Linked DNA regions of Homo sapiens: region 2 is linked to region 1. Evidence: fine-mapped expression QTL. A gene starts in region 1. The other region holds a variant in brackets. All regions are shown on one strand. Distances are from middle to middle.

What was found.
Region 2: its variant is fine-mapped to the expression of NLRP6 in CD4 T cells (BLUEPRINT, PIP 0.95).

Annotation. Positions count from the first base shown.
Region 1 is chr11:272,156-283,407 of GRCh38, forward strand. It overlaps NLRP6 (NLR family pyrin domain containing 6), which reads left to right and starts at 6,252. Exons shown (of 8, transcript NM_001276700.2): 1 at 6,252-6,443; 2 at 7,172-7,452; 3 at 7,679-7,717; 4 at 7,929-9,684; 5 at 10,550-10,642. The coding sequence starts at 6,415. RefSeq lists enhancers at 7,552-8,102, 8,183-8,252 and a silencer at 9,206-9,295.
Region 2 is chr11:251,141-262,392 of GRCh38, forward strand. It overlaps PSMD13 (proteasome 26S subunit, non-ATPase 13), which reads left to right. Exons shown (of 13, transcript NM_002817.4): 11 at 406-486; 12 at 680-796; 13 at 1,365-1,844. The coding sequence ends at 1,460. It also overlaps the pseudogene COX8BP. Among named protein-coding and RNA genes, the nearest start is that of PSMD13, 20 kb to the left of the region's middle. RefSeq lists an enhancer at 6,428-6,928 and a silencer at 7,145-7,224. The variant TGGACGGAC/T (reference allele first, on the strand shown) is at 5,071.

The sequences.
Region 1 (11,252 bases):
ACCAGTTTGAACCTTTCTTTCTTCGGCTGCTCTAGCAGGTTTCCTGGTACAGTGAGTGCCCAATGGAACGAGCATTTGACCAGCAGCTTCATGGGGGAGGCGCTTTCTCTCTGGGTCTCTGTGGGGAAGGGAAAGACCTTCCTTAAGGAGCACTGGACGCCCAGCACCTGCCTTGGAGGACAGTTTGCTTTCGTGGAAGATTGGGCCACAGAGAGCATTGCTGTGGAAGGAGGCGTCAGAAGTGGGGCCAAGTGCACGTTGCCCTTCCACCTGCGGCCTTGGAGACAGGTCCAAGGTGTACGAGTTACGAAGGCCTTGGGCCGCATGAAACCGAAACCCACAGGAGAGTCGTTCTCCCAGAACAAAGCCCCGAGGTGGCCTCCCAGCTGCCAGAGTCATCTCCTCTGGCTCCTGGGCCTGGGCATTGCTCGTGGACCTCCAAGTTTTGTGTCCATGTCCAAGAGGACAAAGACGGAGGGAGGCCAAGAGCCAACGGCCGTGGCAGCTCCACCCACCACCCAAGCCCACCCAGCAGGCTCCCTTTCCCCTCATTGCCCAGACTGTGTCCCAAGGTCACCTTCTGCAAAGTTTTATGGGGAAGCACTTTGCTGATCCACACACACAGGGTTCTGTCGGTAAGAAGAGGGGAAGATGGACCTCGGGTTGGCAGCAAGCAGGTCCTGCCACTTTTGGTTCCATTTGGGACCCCCAAAGGCTCTGGGGTGAATCGTCCCAGAAGGAGAGGTTGATGAGTTGATGAGGCGGGGTCTTCGGCGCCGCCCCCAAGAGGAGCGCAGAGGAGAGAGAGGGCTAGCATCGAGGAGAGAGGTGTGGGGGGTCAGAATGTTGGGGGCCCAGGGGAGAAGGACAGAGGAAGCGGATGACAGTGTAGTACCAAAGGGCTGTCGATGAGTGACAGGAACAGAGGGGGAATTTTCAGCTGCTGTCCGGAGTGTAGGACTCTGTGCAGAAGGGTACAAGCCTAAAGGGTTTCTTCAAGGAAAACTGTGCTCTGTGACATGGGTAGACCCTGGTACTGTCCCTTTGCGGAAGCGGAACACAGATCGCCATTGTCTTTTGAACCGAACTGAAGATTTCTGGAAGCAGCTGTGGCCCCTGGGTCATGAGGCTGTTTAGATTTATATGGGTTCCATTGAGGATTCTCAGGGATTTTGGACCTAAATTTGGTAACTGTTGCACCTCGAACTGAAATATCATCCCACCATTGAGCAGAAGGACAGCATCCCTAGCCTGGGCAACATAGGGAGACCTTGTCTCTAAATAAATAAATAAAAATTAACCAGATGTGTTGATGCATGCCTATAGTTCTAGCTACTTGGAAGGCTGAGTGGGAAGGATCCCTTGAGCCCAGGAGTTTGAGGTTGCAGTGAGCTAAGATCGCACCACTGCACTCTAGCCTGGGCGACAGAGTAAGACCTTGTCTCTAAAAAAAAAAAAAAGAAAGAAAGAAAAGAAAAAAACAAAGAAAAAAGAAAGAAAGATAATTCTTTGTATATTTTGGATAACAGTCCTTTATCAAATATGTGTTTTGCAAATATTTTATCCCAGTGTGTGGCTTGTCTCCTCATTCTCTTAATACTATCTATTCCAGGGCAGAAGTTGTACATTTTAATGAAGCCCACTTATCAATTGTTTCTTTTATGCACCATGCTTTGGTCTATCTTCTAAAAGTTTTGTTGTTTTGCACTTAACATTTGGGTCTATGATATAATTTGAGTTAAATTTTGTGAAACATTTAAAGTCTGTGTTTAGATTTTTTTATTTGTTTTTCATGAGACTATCCAATTGTTCCAGCATCATTTGTTGAAAAGACTATCCTTTTCCTTTGAATTGGCTTTGCTCCTTTTTCACAGATCACTTGACTATATTTGTGTGTGCCAATTCTGGGCTCTGTATTCTGTTCCACTGATTTATCTGTACAGTCTTTTGCCAATATCACTATGCTGATTGCTGTAGCTTTACAGTAAGTCTTGAACCGAGCAGCGTCAGTCCTCTGACTTTGTTCTTCTTCAGTATCATGTTGGTTATTCTGAGTCTTTTGCATTTCCATATAAATCTTACAGGTTTTTTTTTGTTTTGTTCTGTTTGTTTTGTTTTGTTTTTAGAGGAAGGGTCTTGCTGTCACCCAGGCTGGAGTGCAATAGCATGACCTTGGCCTACAACAGCCTCAATCTCTAGGGCTCAAGCAATTCTCCCACCTCAGCCTCCCAAGTAGCTGGGGTTACAGGCATGCACTGGCACACCCAGTTAAATTTTTATATTTTTGTAGAGATGGGGTCTCATTATATTGTCCAGTCTGGTCTCAAATTCTTGGCCTCAAACCATCCTCCTACCTCAGCCTCCCAAAGTGCTGAGATTACAAATGTGAGCCACCATACAATCAGTTTTTTGATATCTACAAAATAATTTGCTATGGTTTTGATTTTTATTACATTGAATCTGTAGATCGATTTGGGAAGAATTGGCATCCTAATAATATTGAGTCTTCCCATCCATGAACATGGAATATTTATTTAGAGCTTTGATTTCTTTCATCAGAGATTTGCAGTTTATCATGTACATATTTTGTGAGATTTATACCTAAGTCAGGTTTTTGGTGCTAATATAAATGATAATTATGTTTTAATTTTCAAATTCCAGCTGTTCGTTGCTAGGCAAGCAAGTGACTTTTGCTTATTACCCCTGCTACCTGCAACCTTGCTATAATCACTTATTAGTTCCAGGAATGTTTTGTTCTTTGGAATTTTCTACACAGACAATCATGTCCTGTGCAAGCAAAAATAGTTCATTTCTTCCTTCCCAATTTGCATACCCTCTTCTCCTTTTCTGGTCTTATTGCCAAGGCTAAGACTTCCAGCACAATGCTGAATAGGAGTGGTGAGAGGGGGCACCCTTGTCCTGTTCCCAGTCTTAAAGAGAAAGCATTCAGCTTCTCAACATTAAGTATGATATTAGCTGTAGGTTTTTTTGTAGATGTTCTCTATCAAGTTGAGGAAGTTCCACTCTATTCCTGCCTTGCTAGAGTTGTTATCATAAATAGGTGTTGGGTTTTGTCAAATGCTTTTCCTTTATCTATTGATATGATCATGTTTTTTCTTCTTTAGCCCATTGATGTGATGAATTACATTAATTTACATGTGAGTGTTAAACCAGCCTTGAATGTCTGGAGTAAATCCCACTTGGTTGTGATGTATCATTCATTTTACACATGTTAGGTTTGGGTTGCTGACTTTTTGTAGAGGATTTTTATATCTACATTCCTGAGAAATATTAGTGTGTTATTTTTCCTTGCTTGTAATGTCTTTGTCTAGTTTTGGTATTAAGGTATTACAACCTTCATTGAATGAGTTAGGAAGTGTTCCTACTGCCTCTATTTTCTGGAAAAGATTATAGGAAATTGTTATTTCTTCATTATGTTTTCAATATAATTCACCAGTAAAACCATCTGGGTCTAATGCTTTTTGGTTTGGAAGGTCATTAATTGTAGATTCAATGTCTTGTTTTTGTTTTTGTTTTGAGTCAGGATCTGGCTCTGTTGCCTGGGTTGGAGTGCAGTGGCATTATCATAGCTCACTGTAGCTTGAACTCCTGAGCTCAAGCAATCCTCCTGCCTCGGCCTCCTAAAGTGCTTGGATTACAGGTGTGAGGGCAGTGGCTGGAGGCCAAAAGTTTGAGAACAGCCTGGGCAATATAGCAAGACTCAGTCTCTATTTTTTAATAAAAATATTAATTTATATAAAAATACAAAATTTTATTTGTCATCTTTACCATTTTAAGTGTATAGCTCAGTGCTAATAAATATATTTACACATATATTATTTTCTCCTTCATCTCCGTTCCCCTACTCTCTTTCCTGGCCTTTTTTATCTTTTAAAAGACAGAAGTCTTATTACCCTGCCAAAGATGGTCTTGAACTCTAGCAATCCTCCCACTTAAGCCTGTCCTGTAGCTAGGACTATGCCCAGTTTGGTTAAACGTATTTTTAATTCCTCTGACTTGTTTTTTGACCCATGTGTTATTTGCAAGTGTATTGTTTATTCCAAATATTGGGGGATTTTCTGATTGGGAAGCTCCTTCCATTCTTCCCAGTTTGCTTAGTGTTTTTAACCATGAAGAGGTGTTGGAAAATGTAGACTATTCTTTCTGTCTCTATTGAGATGATCAAGCAGTTTTTGTCCTCTTAAGTATTACTATGATATGTTACATTAATTGATTTTTGGATGTTAAACCAACCTTGCACTCCTTAGAGAAAACACACTTAGTCATGGTTTGTAATTGTTTTTATATGCTAATAGATTCTGTTTCTGAAGTAGTTTGTTAAGGATTTTTCATGCCTGTATTCATGAAGGATATTGGTTTACAGTTTTCTTCTGATGAGTTTGCCTGGTTTTGGTATCAGTGTCACAGGCCTCAGAGAATGAGTTGGGAAGCATTCCCTTGAGAGCTTTTCTTTGTGGGAAAGTTTTTTTTCCCTGTAATTAGTAATTCAATCTCTTTACTTGTTATAATTTGTCTTAGTCTATTCTCACATTGCTGTAAAGACATACCTGAGACAGGGTAATTTATAAAGAAAAGAGGTTTAACTAGCTCCTGGTTCTGTGGGCTGTACAGACTTTTGCTTCTGGGGAGGCCTCAGGAAACTTACAATCATGGCAGAAAGCAAAGGGGAAGCAGGCAAATATTCATGTGGCCAAAAGGACAGAGAGAGCAAAGTGGGACATGCTACACACTTTCAAACAACCAGATCTCATGAGAACTTACTCACTATTACAAGAACAGCAAGGACGAAATCCACCTTCATGATCCAATCACCTGCCACCAGGTCTCTCCCCCAACATTGGGAATTACAATTCAACATGAGATTTGGGTGGGGACACACAGCCAAACTGTTATCAGAAAGAGGTCTTGATCCAGACATCATGGTTCTTGGATCTCATGCAAGAAAGAATTTGAGTCAAATCCATAAAGAGTAAAGTGCCAGGCATGGTCGCTCACACCAGTAATCCCAGCACTTTGGGAGGTCCAAGGCAGGCAGATCACAAGGTCAAGAGTTCAAGGCCAGCCTGACCAACATGGTGAAACCCCGTCTCTACTAAAAATACAAAAATTAGCCAGGCATGGTGGTGCATGCCTGTAATTCCAGCTACTCAGGAGGCTGAGGCAGGAGAATTGCTTGAACCCAGGAGGCGGAGTTTGAAGTGAGCCGAGATCGTGCCACTGCACTCCGCCTGGCGACAGAACGAGACTCCATGAAAAAAAAAAAAAAAAAAAAAAGAGTAAAGTGAGAGCAAGTTTATTGAGAAAGTAAAGGAATAAAAGAATGGCTATTCTATAGGCAGAGCAGCCCCAAAGGCTGCTGGTTGCCCATTTTTATGGTTATTTCTTGATTATATGCTAAACGAGGAGTGGATTATTCATGAGTTTTCCAGGAAAGTGGTGGGCAATTCTCAGAACTGAGGGTTCCTCCCCTTTTAGACCATATAGGGTAACTTCCTGACTTTGCCATGGCATTTATAAACTGTCATCGTGTTGGTGGGAGTGTCTTTTAGTGTGCTAATGTACTGTAACTAGAGTAATGAGCTGTGAGGATGACCAGAGGTCACTCTCATTGCCATCTTGGTTCTGGTGGTTTTGGGCCAGCTTCTTTACACCATTATCAGCAAGGCCTTTATGACCTGTATCTTGTGTCAACCTCCTGTCTCATCCTGTGACTTAGAATGTCTACCCTCCTGGGAATGCAGCCCAGTAGGTCTCAGCCTTATTTTACCCAGCACCTCTCATTTCCACATATTAACCCCCCCGTTCCACACACTCTCACATTTGGTCCCAGGGGTCTCGAACACCCCTGACGTCCAGCCTCTGCCCGCCAGCTGTTCAGGTCGGGTGGGGAGGCTGCAGTGCAGACCCCTGCCCGGCGTCTCCCTGGAGACTGCCTTCCCTCCCATATATGGTGCGTGCTGCTGGCTGTCCCCCCTGTTCCCTCTACCTGGAAGTCTTTCCTCACCCCTGCCTTCAGAGTCTAACCTCTCCCCAGGCCTCAGCTGAAGGCCTGGCTCTGAGCCAGCCACCTCCTTCACACAACCCACCTTGCTCTGAAGCTGCCTGCTCACAGCCATGCCCCGATGCCACACCCAGGGGTTCTTGGGGAACATTAATGGGATAAAGGAGTAAGAAAATCAAAGGTCACCAAACGGAGCCCTTAAAGGGCAATGCTCTGCGTGTGCCACGGTGCCCAACAGCATCTCGTGCCAGCTGAGCTGCGGTGTGTGGACCCGGGGAATGGACCGGGCTGGACAACCTCTAAGACTTGGCTCCAGCTCAGCCTGTGAAGGAATCACCTCTCTGATCCCCACCTCTGCCCCGGAGTGCTAGACCCAGGGAGGAAGAGACCCCATGGACCAGCCAGAGGCCCCCTGCTCCAGGTGAGTGCTGGCCCCAGGGTGGTCACTGGGAACCGGCTGGTCTCAGCCCTCTGGGGCCTCCACCTCACCCGCTGACTTCCTCAGGCTCTCCACCCTTGTCCACATCCTTCCCCCACCCTCACTCCCAGGCTCAGGAGCCAAGCACTGCCTCCCCACAGAGGGCATTTGTGGAGTCTGTTCCCCACCAGGGGCTCAGATTCAGGCCCTGGTGCAAGGCCCCAAGCTGGGCCCCACCAAAGTGTGGCAGGGGTGGGGGCCCAGGAATACAGCCTGGGCCTGGCAGTGTCTGCTGCCAAAGAGGCCAGTTCTGCTCCGGGATCGGGAAGAGAGGGAAAAGAAGGAAAGCGAGGAAAGAGAGCTCAGGGTTCCTTGGAAATACCTCCCTCGGGGCATGTGACCTGTCCTGGGGTGTGGAAGGACAGAAGCAGAAAGGGAGGTGCAGGGGAGGAAGGTGCCCCCCAGAGCTCAGATCAGCGGCGGCCAGTGCCCACTTCACCCTCAGAGGGCGAAGAACACCAAGACGCCCCGACCCGGGTCCGGGGACGGGGGAGGGAAAAGTCTGGGGTCACTCCCCGTTGCCCCCTCCCGCCACCCCATGGATCCAGACGATGCTTGGCCCGGGACTCCCTGAGGCCCTGCCCGCGGTGGGTTCTCCGGCGCCAGAGTCGGGGGCGGGCGGGGGTCACCCGAGGGCCGCTCCCCGATGACCCGCGCCCGCCCGCCTCCAGCACGGGGCCGCGCCTCGCGGTGGCCCGCGAGCTGCTCCTGGCTGCGCTGGAGGAACTGAGCCAAGAGCAGCTGAAGCGCTTCCGCCACAAGCTGCGCGACGTGGGCCCGGACGGACGCAGCATCCCGTGGGGGCGGCTGGAGCGCGCGGACGCCGTGGACCTCGCGGAGCAGCTGGCCCAGTTCTACGGCCCGGAGCCTGCCCTGGAGGTGGCCCGCAAGACCCTCAAGAGGGCGGACGCGCGCGACGTGGCGGCGCAGCTCCAGGAGCGGCGGCTGCAGCGTGAGTTCTGCGCGGGAGGTCCCTCCTGTCTGGGCAGAGGCTGGGCTGCCCTCCTTCCCGCTTCCCGGAGAAGCCCCGGCGCGGTCCCCGGCCCCCGCGCGTTTTATCCACAAATTCGCGGGCCCCAGGGGTAGGACCCTGCGTGCTCCTCAGGGTGACTCGGACCCCCGTGGCGCCTTCCCCTGTTCCCGCCCTCGGCGGAACCTCACCCCAGTTTCCCTTCCAGGGCTCGGGCTCGGCTCCGGGACGCTGCTCTCCGTGTCCGGTGGGTCTCTCGCTGGGGGGGCACGAGTGTCCCCAACCCCACTTGGAGGGTCCCGGGGAGGACCGGGGTGGGAGGGCCGCCAGGGGCGTGGGCTGTGGTCCCGTAGAGGAAACTGAGGCCTGAGCAGGGCCGGGGAGGGCGTGGGCTCCCGGAGGGCGCAGCCTGCCCCACCTCCGACCCTTGTCCCCGCGCTGTCTCCCGCTGCGCCCAGAGTACAAGAAGAAGTACCGGGAGCACGTGCTGCAGCTGCACGCTCGGGTGAAGGAGAGGAACGCCCGCTCCGTGAAGATCACCAAGCGCTTCACCAAGCTGCTCATCGCGCCCGAGAGCGCCGCCCCGGAGGAGGCGATGGGGCCCGCGGAAGAGCCTGAGCCGGGGCGCGCGCGGCGCTCGGACACGCACACTTTCAACCGCCTCTTCCGCCGCGACGAGGAGGGCCGGCGGCCGCTGACCGTGGTGCTGCAGGGCCCGGCGGGCATCGGCAAGACCATGGCGGCCAAAAAGATCCTGTACGACTGGGCGGCGGGCAAGCTGTACCAGGGCCAGGTGGACTTCGCCTTCTTCATGCCCTGCGGCGAGCTGCTGGAGAGGCCGGGCACGCGCAGCCTGGCTGACCTGATCCTGGACCAGTGCCCCGACCGCGGCGCGCCGGTGCCGCAGATGCTGGCCCAGCCGCAGCGGCTGCTCTTCATCCTGGACGGCGCGGACGAGCTGCCGGCGCTGGGGGGCCCCGAGGCCGCGCCCTGCACAGACCCCTTCGAGGCGGCGAGCGGCGCGCGGGTGCTAGGCGGGCTGCTGAGCAAGGCGCTGCTGCCCACGGCCCTCCTGCTGGTGACCACGCGCGCCGCCGCCCCCGGGAGGCTGCAGGGCCGCCTGTGTTCCCCGCAGTGCGCCGAGGTGCGCGGCTTCTCCGACAAGGACAAGAAGAAGTATTTCTACAAGTATTTCCGGGATGAGAGGAGGGCCGAGCGCGCCTACCGCTTCGTGAAGGAGAACGAGACGCTGTTCGCGCTGTGCTTCGTGCCCTTCGTGTGCTGGATCGTGTGCACCGTGCTGCGCCAGCAGCTGGAGCTCGGTCGGGACCTGTCGCGCACGTCCAAGACCACCACGTCAGTGTACCTGCTTTTCATCACCAGCGTTCTGAGCTCGGCTCCGGTAGCCGACGGGCCCCGGTTGCAGGGCGACCTGCGCAATCTGTGCCGCCTGGCCCGCGAGGGCGTCCTCGGACGCAGGGCGCAGTTTGCCGAGAAGGAACTGGAGCAACTGGAGCTTCGTGGCTCCAAAGTGCAGACGCTGTTTCTCAGCAAAAAGGAGCTGCCGGGCGTGCTGGAGACAGAGGTCACCTACCAGTTCATCGACCAGAGCTTCCAGGAGTTCCTCGCGGCACTGTCCTACCTGCTGGAGGACGGCGGGGTGCCCAGGACCGCGGCTGGCGGCGTTGGGACACTCCTGCGTGGGGACGCCCAGCCGCACAGCCACTTGGTGCTCACCACGCGCTTCCTCTTCGGACTGCTGAGCGCGGAGCGGATGCGCGACATCGAGCGCCACTTCGGCTGCATGGTTTCAGAGCGTGTGAAGCAGGAGGCCCTGCGGTGGGTGCAGGGACAGGGACAGGGCTGCCCCGGAGTGGCACCAGAGGTGACCGAGGGGGCCAAAGGGCTCGAGGACACCGAAGAGCCAGAGGAGGAGGAGGAGGGAGAGGAGCCCAACTACCCACTGGAGTTGCTGTACTGCCTGTACGAGACGCAGGAGGACGCGTTTGTGCGCCAAGCCCTGTGCCGGTTCCCGGAGCTGGCGCTGCAGCGAGTGCGCTTCTGCCGCATGGACGTGGCTGTTCTGAGCTACTGCGTGAGGTGCTGCCCTGCTGGACAGGCACTGCGGCTGATCAGCTGCAGATTGGTTGCTGCGCAGGAGAAGAAGAAGAAGAGCCTGGGGAAGCGGCTCCAGGCCAGCCTGGGTGGCGGCAGGTGCGTCTCCAGGGCAGAGATACTCTCTTGTGTGTGAGGTGTGTGTGCCGGTGCAAACCTGTGCACCTCAGTGTCCATCTGGCATGGGGCGCACCTCCAGACCAGACCCTGGCTCCCCAGATGGGGAGGCTTTGACCACCTCCTTGCAAGGCAACCACTGAATTCCTATCTTCTTCCCCAGGGTGTCCTCACCATGCCCACCGTCAGCCACCCACAACCTATGAAAACTTCCTAGTATGGCCCTACAGCTCTGGCCCAGCCCTTCTTCCCATTTTACTTTCTGACAATAAGCTCTGGAACACACGATGCCCTCTGTCCAGAGCCTCTGCACTTGCCCTTCCCTCCACCTAGAATATTCTGTTTGCTGCCTGTCCTGCAAGTCTGCCCTGGCTCCCCCAGCTGGCTGGGGACCCAACTGGCTCCAGAAGTACCCTTTCGACCACCCTGCTGTGACATCTGCCCCACACCTCCACCAGACCCTCGGCTCCTCCAGGGCAAGGCTTTTGCCAGAGTTCCTTTGAATATAGCTCCAATTCAGCCCCTGCCCAGGGGCTTGGCATCTGTTGAGAGGATGAATGTCACGGTGTTGGCAGGGGCTGGGCCTGGGGACCCAAAGACCCATGTAGAGGATGTGGGTGATACCGTCCCACTGACCTCACTCAGACACCCCAGTGGGATGATGCCTGGGCCACAGATGAGTGGTTTTGCTCTGGGTTTGGTTGGGGGAGTGTGAAGGGGGTGGCTCAGCAAGGAGGTGAGGAGGAGGGGCAGCTCTGAGACCCCAGGACTACAGATAGACAGGAGTCCTTTCCGGCAGGCACTGTGAGGAGCAGGGTGGGCTTCACCTTCCTCTCTCTCCCAGCAGTTCTCAAGGCACCACAAAACAACTGCCAGCCTCCCTTCTTCATCCACTCTTTCAGGCAATGACTGACCCACTGTGCCATCTGAGCAGCCTCACGTGAGTGGCCACACCCCCAGCTCTTCCCACGGAGCGGGCTGAGAGCAGGATGCCCTGGGCAGAGACGGAAGTATGACCTAGGAAAGAAGGCTGAGGGGTCAGACCAGAGCCTGAGGCCTGTGGGTGCTGGAGATGGCAGGCTCTGCCCACACAGAGCAGAGGGAGGAGGGGATGAGGGTCTGGGGCTTCATTACCAGGTTAGGTACTGGTAGGAAAAGGTTGGTCCTGGTGAGTGGAAAGCAGCTAAGCACACTGAGGGAGGGATTAAAGAAGACAAGAGTGTATTTTCCTTCTGAAGGGAGGCTGCCGTTGGAAACTGCTGGGTTCTCAGAAGCAGTGGAGGAAGGTGTTCAAGCGCAGGCTCCAAGGTCAGGCTGTCTGCAAATGCTAGCCGGCTTCTGCGTGCCCAGTAGCAAGTCCATCTGTCCGAGCTTCCATTTCCTCCCCTGTGAAATGGAGCCAGTAGATCCAGAGAGTTGGGGTGAGATTTAATGTGGCTACACATGTACAGTTCTTTTTTTTTTTTTTTTTTTTGAGACGGAGCCTCGCTCTGTCGCCCAGGCTGGAGTGCAGTGGTGTGATCTCAGCTCACTGCAAGCTCCGCCTCCCG
Region 2 (11,252 bases), 21 kb before region 1:
CCCCGTGATGCAGTTGTTGCCTCATTGCATGTCGCTTCTTGTGTACACGCACATCTGTCTTTCCCCACTAGAACTTAAGCTTCGTCAGGAAGTGGCCCTTAGATTTCTGGTTTGCCGTGGTCACCCCTGGTCAACCCTGGCAAATTGTGGCCTCAAGTACTTGTTCGGGGATTGAACAATGGCTACTGTCAGAAACTCCTGTAAGGCATTTTGCTGTTATCCTTCTTATCTAAGCATTAAAAGCTTGTTCTTAACAAGATATATGTCTAATATTAGGAAACTTTTTAGTATGTGGGGTACTAATAAGATCTCTATTTTCAGAGCCAATATTGACAAAACATCCTTATCAGTTCTCTATTTTTATTTGGAAAAATAGTTTAAAATAGTTAATAAAATTTTTTCCAGATGACTTTCACACGACCTGCCAATCACAGACAACTCACTTTTGAAGAAATTGCCAAAAGTGCTAAAATCACAGTGAATGAGGTACGGTCCCTAGGCTCAGGGTGTTAGAGCAGCAAAGCTGCCACATGGAGGAGTCAAGGCTCTTGTGTGAGCGCTGTGCTCCCTAGACAGTAAAAAATGACGGGAGGAGCGGCATCTGCTTCTCACAAGCCATCTGGGTCCATGGGGGTGTGTCAGGCTATCTTGTCTTACACACGCCTCCCTCTCTGCACAGGTGGAGCTTCTGGTGATGAAGGCCCTTTCGGTGGGGCTGGTGAAAGGCAGTATAGACGAGGTGGACAAACGAGTCCACATGACCTGGGTGCAGCCCCGAGTGTTGGATTTGCAACAGGTGATGTGTTTGAAACCCATTATTCACCTCTGTGGATTTTGAGGGGTTGTGTCTATACCGTCTTAGTTTCATTTGGATGGAAGCCATTTGGGAAGACAGCATTATTAGACAAGAGGTTTTGGAGAAGGAAATACTGCTGTTGGGTTTTTCTAAGAGCCTAATTTAATGCAAGCCTAGGGTTTGAACCCTGCATTTAAAAGCTTATGATGACAATGGCACTGGTTGTGCTGACGGTGCCTTTTAATCTTAAGATAGGAGCTCTGATCAGATACGTTCCTGGTTCTGTGATTTGAGCTCACGTCGCTCTTACATTTGCTGGAAATGCGATCCTGTGGATTTCCTCTGTCCTTGTCTGCTTTCTTTCATGCAAGTTTTTTCTAACGTTCCTGTGAAAAGAATTAACCCGGCAAGTCCCGTCCCACTCCCCCAGCTCAGAGGTCCTTTTTACTAGAGCTGCCCTAGAGAGTTAGCTGGAGATGTAGAGTCACCCCATCAGGTGCTGTGCCGGCCGCTCGGCCTGTGTCTCCTGCGTGTCTTAACGTCCCTTGTGTCCGGATTTCCATTTCAGATCAAGGGAATGAAGGACCGCCTGGAGTTCTGGTGCACGGATGTGAAGAGCATGGAGATGCTGGTGGAGCACCAGGCCCATGACATCCTCACCTAGGGCCCCCTGGTTCCCCGTCGTGTCTCCTTTGACTCACCTGAGAGAGGCGTTTGCAGCCAATGAAGCTGGCTGCTCAGACGGTCGACATTGAATTTGGGTGGGGGTTGGGATCCTGTCTGAAGTACAGACTGTTCTTGCTCTAAAAACAGGACTGTCCCTGATGGGAGCCAGGCCACAGGGAGGAGGCTTCTTTGTGGGTCTCTCCTGCAGAGGGTGGGGGTCTCAGGGTCTTAGGTGATACGGGAGAGAAAGAACGTGCCAGGCAGGAGGCCCCCTGAAGTCTGTGTACTCCGAGGTGGATCTCCATCCCCATCCACCTGTACGGACATCTTTTCCGTTGCGGTTTGAGAATGTTCCTATAATAAACCCCTCTGCTTTGTTCTTCTTGTGGCTCTGTTTTCTTGGGCTTAGCTTCCAGGCCAAGCCTGTGCCTGGAGGTTAAAAAGCATGAGTTGGAACCTTGGGAAGACACGGTGGGGGTAGCCTTGGCCCTTCTCCTCCCTGCACATACAGTAGACGGGCAGAATCCAGCACCAAGGACTAACGAAGACGCTGGTCCTATCTTTATTGTTAGTCAAGAGAGACCTAGGGGTATCCACTCCCTTCTCCAGCCCTCTCAGGTACCTGCCCCGACACAGGCATCCATCCACATCCTTGTCACCACTCATCATTCAAATAGCCACCAGCATCTGTGACCTGGTGTGCCCCAGTGCGGACATGAGCCATCCCTGGGACTGGGCATGTAAAGGAAACCACCTTGAGGTTCCCCGTCTGGGAGTGGAGGTGCACGTACACAAAGAATCACAGAGTGAACATTAGGTGGAAGGACAGTTTAATGTGATCTTTCAGTCCTGGGCCTGCAGTGACAGCATGGAGCTCTTGCAGCTCTCCAGGTCGGGTGAGACCCAGCCTCCAGGAACCAGGAAGCTGATGAATGTGAGAGCCCCACGGCCTGCTCCTGTTGGAGGAAAGCACCCACAAGTCTGCTAGGCTGGCAAAGAACAGTTGTCCGGCATCTTCTCCAGCCTTTTCCTCTTTGGTTGCTGGTGTCTGAGCTCCTGGTTTTTTCCACCTCGTCCAGGCCTCGCCTGACCTCATGGCCCCAGACCCCTCTCGGTCTTTCCACCCACCCTCTCCAGACCTCGTTTGGCCCTGGTCCAGATGGCCTGACACCCCAGCTGTTCCTCGTCAGTCACAATTGCTGGGATCTATTGACCACTAGCCTTTATACCCACCTCACTGTCAAGTTCCCAAGGCCCTGTGGTGCACCCTTCAACCTTCCGCAGCCCCTCTCAGCTGCTCAGGCCAAATGTCTTAGTGTGAGCCTCCATTTCCCTCAGACACTCATGTGTACATCGAGCCCGCTGACTCCCCACCCTCCCTAAGTCCAGCCTCAAACCTGTCCTCCATAACCGCTCCTCCACACAGCAGCCCAGACAGTCTTCCAGAACAATCAGGTCTTGTTGCTGCCGCTGCTCAGCATCCTCCAACAGGCTTCACTCACCCCCAAGGCCTGAGTGCTCTGACCACTGCCTGCCTTGCTGGTCCTGCTCCTACCCTCATCTGCTCTCCCTGCACCCCACCAAGGCTCCTGCCTCATCCCAGACATGAGCTGATCACAGCCCAGAGAGACACAATTCTGCATGCTGAAATCCCGAAAAATCAAAATTCTGAAAATATATTTCTGGAAAAAATAATTTTAAAATTATTTAAAAGATATTTATTTACTTTTTTTTCATTTTTTTATTTTTGAGACGGAGTTTCACTCTTGTTGCCCAGGCTGGAGTGCAATGGCACCATCTCCGCTCACTGCAACCTCTACCTCCTGGGTTCAAACAATTCTGCCTCAGCCCTCTGAGTAGCTGGGATTACAGGCGCCTGCCACCACACCTGGCTAATTTTGTATTTTTAGTAGAGATGGGGTTTCTCCATGTTGGTCAGGCTGGTCTCAAACTCCTGACCTCAGGTGATCCGCCCGCCTCAGCCTCCCAAAGTGCTGGGGTTACAGGCATGAGCCACCACGCCTGGCCATCTATTTACATTTTTAAAGGGGATTTATTTGAGAAACATAAAAACATGACATATGACAGAACACATCATAGGCCACTTCACACAATAAAATAGACAATAATAATATCCATGTTTCTGCAAGTGTAAACAGTCATACCAATGACAGTTATGCACAGATGAGCTGTATTCGTAAAGAAATGTGTTGAGAGGGGAAATGCATGAACACCTACCGCTCGGGTGGGAATTGCGTGCGCCCAGGTTCATAACTGCAGTCTTCCGAAAAGCCAGGATGAACAACCTACGCCTTCTAACAGGCTCAATCTAGAACCGCAACAGTTCACCACCACATAGCCAGTCACCAAAAAAACCAAGATCTAGAGAAATTTTTCACAAATGCAGATGTACAAAAAGGACATCTCTTCATTTATTGAGGAAATATCCCATTTTTACCTACACACACAGACAACATTGTGGTAATGCACTTCTGTGGAGTCAGTTTTGCAAAAAATGCCTAAAACAAATTAGAACACTGTATAAGTGTTCTAATTTATATCTTCAGTATTGAAATGATGCAAGGATAAAATGAGAGCATAGTGAACTGTAAAAAAATAATGCTGACAATTTATGATGATGAAAAAAGCTAAAAAAACTATACAGAAAATTCAACTTGAAAAAGCCATATATGTCGAATTTTCTGTGTAAGTCATATTACAGTAGATTATGGGCAACTATGCAGAGATATTCTGTAAGAGCTGGCAAACTTCCACGACCCCATTAACTATATTCTGAAGTCTTGCATCACAATGAATAGCTGTTTTTTTTTTCTTTTAGGACATGGCTTTCCTTGGAGAATACATTCAAATTCATTTTCTAAGTGGCGCTACTTTTTAAAAATTTCTATGATTCCTGTGATTGTGATTTTTGGAATTTTAAATATTAGAGATTTTACACTTTAGATATTTTGATCTTTCAGGATTTCAAGACTCAGGAGTGTGTCTTTCAGGATTATAATCCAAACACATCCCAGACACAGGGCACTCCCACCCTTCACTGGCGCCTTTGTCTGGACAGCCTTTCCCTCAGGTTTTTACTTGTTTCTTTAGATCATTTAGGCTTTGCTCAAATGACATCTCCTTAGATATATCTTGTTTACTCTCTGTTTTTGAAGCTGGAATGTAAGTCCCATGAGGGCAGAGACTCCGTTGTGTTCACCACTGAATCTTTGGAGCCTGGAGCAGTGTCTGGTTTAGCAGACTTTTTCAGTCAATGTTACATGGATGGATGGACAGATGGGCATATGGATATATGGATGGATGAATGGATGGGTGGATGGGTGAGTGGATGGACAACAGATGAGTGGATGGATGCATGGATGCATGGATGGATGGATGGATGGATGGATGGATGGATGGATGGATGGATGGTGGGTGGATGGATGAGTTTATGAATAGGTGGACGGACAGATGCACGGATGGATGGATGGATGGGCAGATGGGTGGGTGGGAGGAGTGGATGGGTGGATGGATGCAGGGATCCATAATGGATGGATGTGTGGATGGGTGGATGGATAGATGAGTGGATAAGTGGATGGATAGATGCA[TGGACGGAC/T]GGACGGACGGACGGACGGACGGACGGACGGACGGACGGATGGATGGATACATGGGTCGGTGGGTGGATGGATGAGTCAATGGGTGGATGAGTGGATGGGTGGATGGATGGATGGGTGGGTGGATGGATGGGTGGGTAGGTGGGTGGGTGGATGGATGATTGGAGGAGTTGTTATAAGGATGGATGGAGTTTCTATTGTATGCTGGGCACTGGGCTAGATTTGAAGGATACAAAGCCAAGTCAGACATGAGAGACAACTGTGGGGATTACACTTCTCCTTCAGAATGACCCACAGTATTATCACTGACAATGAAAAAGGCCACAGCTGAGTCCAAGCCCAGGAGCCAGTAGAAGCAGTAGGACATCTGACCCCACCTAGGCCCCCAGATTTATCCATGGTCATTGTCTGTACCTCCAGGCTTGGCTGTGGTCATCACCCTCACTATGGACAATCACGCCCCTATCTGTTTGTTTTGAAATGGTAAATTGGTGATACGAGCAAATTTCACTAGGAACATGATTTTACTTTTGTTCTTCCCCAGAAACCACATTTGTCCTAAATGTGAGACTACTTCCTAGGCTTTCCACCCCACCTTCCGGGTCCCTGGCCAGTCTTCATCTGACTTGGTTTCTCAAGCAGGAGCCAAGTCCTGTGAGGCCAGAGGAAGAAGGGTGTCCTGAATGTTATCTCCAGCAGTGCTGGGCTCCTGATACCAGCCTCAGGCAGTGGGGGGCTCTGCCCCTCCTCTGTAATAATCCCTTCCGCCTGAACCTTTAATTATAGCTTTGGGGTCCAGTTCTGGATAAGGCTGTGGACCTGAGTGCGTGTTCAAAGGATCAGTCTCCCAGGCTATGGTGTTTTGTCTTTTACAGATAAGAACTAGCTGCACCACCACCCAGGCTTGCCCCCGAGGGAGGCCTCCACCTCTGCCCTTTTTGGGCTTCAGTGGAGTGGGGGGTGCAGGTGGCGTGTGTGGGTGGGCAGTGGAGAGGCCCACTGTGCTTCAGGACGTTAGGCTTCCAAACAAGCCCCCAGCCAGCCCAGCCTTGGGTGGGTGATGCCCCCGATGAAGGCTGAGAGGAGGGAGCTGGCAGGGGTGGGAGCAGCGATGCCAGGAGGAAACACTGCCCTCCAGGAGAGAGAGGTTTTGTCGGCCTCCCTCAAGCCCAGATGGCCACGCCGTCCACAGCCTTCAACCTCTTCCCACCTGCCCACTCACCGGTCTTCCGACCTTTCTGACCTTTCCAAGCACAAACCTGTCCTCCTCACTTCACACTCACGCAGCTTCTACTTCTGGGGCCCCACAAAAGCAGAAGTGAGCTTTGGTCTTTATCCTAGCCTTGTTTTTAGTCCCCAGTTTGAACCACTTGTTCAAACCAAACCCTGTGGTTAAAGATCCTGAGTCCCCCACCCACAGCAAGGCTGCCCCAGATGGCCTCTCCTGTCATCATCCTGAGGCCTGGACCCTCTTCCCCGCCACCCCCAGGTCTGCCCTTTAATAGAAAGAAAATGATGTGACCCAGAGAGAAAGAGAAGGTGGCCAAGTGGGGCTGCAGGATGGAGATTAAGGCCCCACGTAACAGCTGGGGAAACTGAGACTTGAAGAGCATTCAGGGTTGCAGGCTCAGGGTTCCAGACTCATCCTGGCCCATCCTGGCTCATCCTGGCTCATCTTGGCTCATCCTGGCCCATCCTGGCCCATCCTGGCCCATCCTGGCTCATCCTGGCCCATCCTGGCTCATCTTGGCTCATCCTGGCCCGTCCTGGCTCATCCTGGCTCGTCCTGGCCCATCCTGGCTCATCTTGGCTCATCCTGGCCCGTCCTGGCCCATCCTGGCTCATCCTGGACAGGGGCAGCATCGGAAGGTGCGCTCAAGGCCGTGGATGGACAAAAGTAGTCCTGTTACCTGAATCTTCACCCTCACCTTCTTCAGCCACTCAGCACATACCTATCAAGCTTGCCCTGGACATACCCCTAACGCACCTGGGAGGCGGGAGGGAGACCAGCCACCACGCACACCCTCTCTCACAAAGCTGCAAGGCCACCTCGGCCTGCAGGACCACCTGGAAAGTCCGGTGGACACCTGTGGGCACATGGCACCACCCTGTGTCCAGACTTGGAACCACAGAAGCTGCTGGAGGAGGCACAGACGGGGGCACAGCCCTCTTCCATGGAGCTCTTCGAATCAGAGACCCAGAAAGAGCACACATGCATGAAAACATTTGCATGCTCCTTTTTTATTGCATTAGAAACCTATTTCTTCACGTAAAATAGTGGTTCTTAAAGTGTGGTTCCTGGACCAACAGCATCAGCATCACCTGGCTTGTTGGAAACGAATCGGAAAGTGGAGTGGGCCTATAATCTGTTACAACAACCCCCCAGGTGAGTATGATACACAGCCAAGTTTGAGAACCAGCCGGTCGCGGTGGCTCACACCTGTAATCTCAGCACTTTGGGAGGCCAAGGTAGGTGGATCACCTGAGGTCAGGAGTTCAAGACCATCCTGGACAACGTGGCAAAACCCCGTCTCTACTAAAAATACAAAAATTTGCTGGGCATGGTGGCAAACGCCTGTAGTCCTAGCTACTCGGGAGGCTGAGACAGGAGAATTGCTTGAACCCGGGAGGCGGAGATTGCAGTGAGCTGAGATTGTGCCATTGCACTCCAGCCTGTGCGACAGAGCAAGACTCCATCTCAAAAAAAAAAAAAAGCTTGAATACCATCTTCATGTCACATAAAAACTTTGATACTTCACACTATTTTCTTCAAAACTGAATGACCACTTCCAAAAAATTAAGCCAGATACTAAGACTTGGCCCCTTCCTTTCATCTAAAAAAACACATTTCCACTAAGTACCTTGTAGATTTAGTAGAATTTACTGAAACTTTGGGATTCATGGGAAGAGATCCTGTGGAGGGTGTGGCCCTCTGCCCTCCACCCCACCCCTGTGCACACCCCTCGTCGGGAACTCAGCTTTGACCCAAGCCCTCTTCACATGGAACCTGCCCGTTCGGGACTCTGGTGTCAGTCGACAGTCTCAGCATTGCCCAGCGCTGACGGTTTCGATGGTGCTGTGTGTCAGCTTGACTGGGCCGTGGTGCCCACGTTTGGTCAAACATTATTCTGGATATTTCTGCAAAGGTGTTTTTTGGATGAAATACTAACCTTTAAATTGGTGAACTTTGAGAAACGCAGAAGACCCTCCATGATGTGGTGGGCTTCATCCAATCAGTTGAAGATCTTAGGAGAACAAAGACGGACCTCTCCTGAGGAGGAAGAAGGAATTCCACCTCCAGATGGTCCTCGGGCTCCGCCACAGCATCAGCTTTCCTCGGGGCCTCCAGCCACCTGGGCTCCTCTATCAGATTCCGGGCTTACCAAGCCTCTACAATCACATAAACAGTTCCTCAAAATAGATCTCTCTCCACATATATGTGTGTTGGGGATGGGTGGGTACACACACACACGCACGCGCACACACACACACGCACGCACACACATCCTGTTGGTTCTGTTTCTCTGGAGAATGCTAATACAATATGTATAATACATTTGTCACAATTAATGAACCAATATTGATACATTAGTTACGAACTTCATGAAGTCCATACTCGATTCGGATTTCCTCACACTTTCCCTCATTTCCTGTTCCAGGATCAACACCATTTTACATTCAGTCTCCACATCTCCTGAGCTCCTGTCTGCTGGGGCGGCTCCTCATTCTCCTTGTTTTTCGGTGACCTTGAAGGTAACTGGTCAGGTTTATTGTAGAACACCCCACCCTTCTATTGAGGTTCGGCTGCTGCTTTTCTCATGATTAGATTAGGGCTCTGGGGCTTGAGAAGGAGGACCACAGAGGGACAGCGCCCTTCTCATCACATCATACCAAGAACTTCTCACTCCTGATGTTGGCCTCGGCCACCTGGGTGAGACCGTCTGTCAGCTTTCCTCATTGCAAAGTGACTCTTTTCACTCCCCTTCCCATACTGTTCCCTTTGGGAGGAAGTCACTATGCACAGCCCCACCTAAGGATGGCCAGTCACACTCCACCTCTTTGGGGGTGGGGTCTCTACAGGCTTTATTTGTCATTCTTTTGCATTAAAGGCTTGTCTCTTTTCCCCACTTATTATTACTGATTCATTTATTTATATCAGTATGGACTCAAGCGTATTTATTTTATATTTAGGTTATAATTAACACTGGTTAATTTTGTTGCTCAGATTGTCCCAGCTCTGGGTATTGGGTTCCTTTCTTTCAGCCCTGTGTTCCTTTAGCATATCCTCAAAATTGTGGAGCTTTTTAATTTGCTTGTTTTGAACACTTTCTTAGTTTCTGGTACCACAAAATGCTCCAGACTCATATATTTTCTGCCCCTGTCCTGGAATAAGTGAACATAGAATAAGCCAATAGGCCTGGTTCCTTCTGCTGGAGAATGGTATTAGAAACCAAGATCTGGGCTGGGCATGGTGGCTCACACCTGTAATCCCAGCACTTTGGAAGGCTGAGGCAAGTGGATCACTTGAGGCCAGGAGTCTGAGACCTGCCTCAGCAACATAGTGAGACTGAGACCCTGCCTCTACAAAAAATTTAAAAATTAGCCAGGCATGGTGGCTCCTAGTCCTATATAGAGCGCCTATAGTCCTAGCTACTTGGGAGGCTGAGATGGAAGGAGTGCTTGAGCCCAGGAGTTCAAAGCTGCAGTGAGCCATAATCATGCCAGTGCACTCTAGCCTGGGTGACACAGTGAGATCCTCTCTCAAAAAATAAAAAATAAAAGCATTAACTTATGTTAAAGAAAAAAAAAAGAAACAAGAAGAGAGAAAGAAAGCAAGAAGAGAGAAAGAAAGCAAGAAAGAAGAAAGAGAAAGAAGAAAGAAAAAGAGAAAGAAAAGAAAGAAAGAAAAAGAAAGAGAGAAAAGAAAAAAAAAGAAAAGGAAGGAAGCAAGGAAGGGAGAGAGAAAGAAAAAAAAGAAAAGAGTCCAAGAGCCGGACACTAGGTAGCTACATGACACTATACACCTGTCAAGATTCATGGAGGGCCAAGCACAGTAGCTCATGCCTGTCATCCCAGCACTTTGGGAGGCCAGGGCAGGACTGCTTAAGCCCAGGAGTTAGAGACCAGCCTGGGTAACATAGTGAGACCCCTGTCTCCACAAAAAATAAAAACATTAGCCAGGCATGGTGGTGCACACGTGTGGTCCCAGCTACTCAGGAAGCTGAGGTGGGAGGATGGCTTGAGCCTGGAGGCCGAAGCTGCAGTGAGACATTATTGGGCCACTGCACTCCAACCTGGACAACAGAGCAAGATCCTCTCTCAAAATAATAAAAATTAAAAATTCATAGAGCTTTATAGTACAAAGAGTAAACATTAATGTATGCAAATGTTAAAATATCATTTAGAATATCAGGGAATCCCATGATGGAATGCAGCATGTGACAAAATAATCTAACTGTGTTACAAATGCAGAAACAACCTCACTGAAGGGAATGATGAGAAAGGCACTGACTTGGTAACTTTGGAAATGAGTGAAGTCTGTTAAGACTAAGAGCAAAGGAAGTACACATAAGCACAGTACTCTAGCTGATAAAGTAGTTTCCCACACGGCAGATGTGGGGGTGTGTGTGTGTATGTGTGTGCATGCGTACCATGCAAATTAGCAAAATACAACACATTGGAGGCCAGGTGCAGTGGTTCATGTCTGTAATCCCAGCACTTTGAGAGGCCAAGGCAGGCAGATCACCTGAGGTCGGAGTTCGAGATCAGCCTGACCAACATGGAGAAACCCCATCTCTACTAAAAATACAAAAAATTAGTCAGGCGTGGAGGTGCATGCCTGTAATTCCAGCTACTCGGGAGGCTGAGGCAGGAGAATCACTTGAACCCGGGAGGCGGAGGTTGCGGTGAGCAGAGATTGTGCCACTGCACTCCAGCCTGGGCAACAAGAGCGAAACTCCACCTCAAAAAAAAAAACACACACACACACACACACAATGGAAAATATGCATGAGTAACGTAGCAGAGATTGCTAGCTGATCTCCAAAATTTCTGTTCCTGTCTTCCTGGACAAATAGCTAGACTGCATGTCCTATCCTTTCCTGCTGTCAGGGTCGGCCATGTGACTGTGGCTATGAGTGACATGCACAACCTCCTGATCAGGCCATGACAAGCCT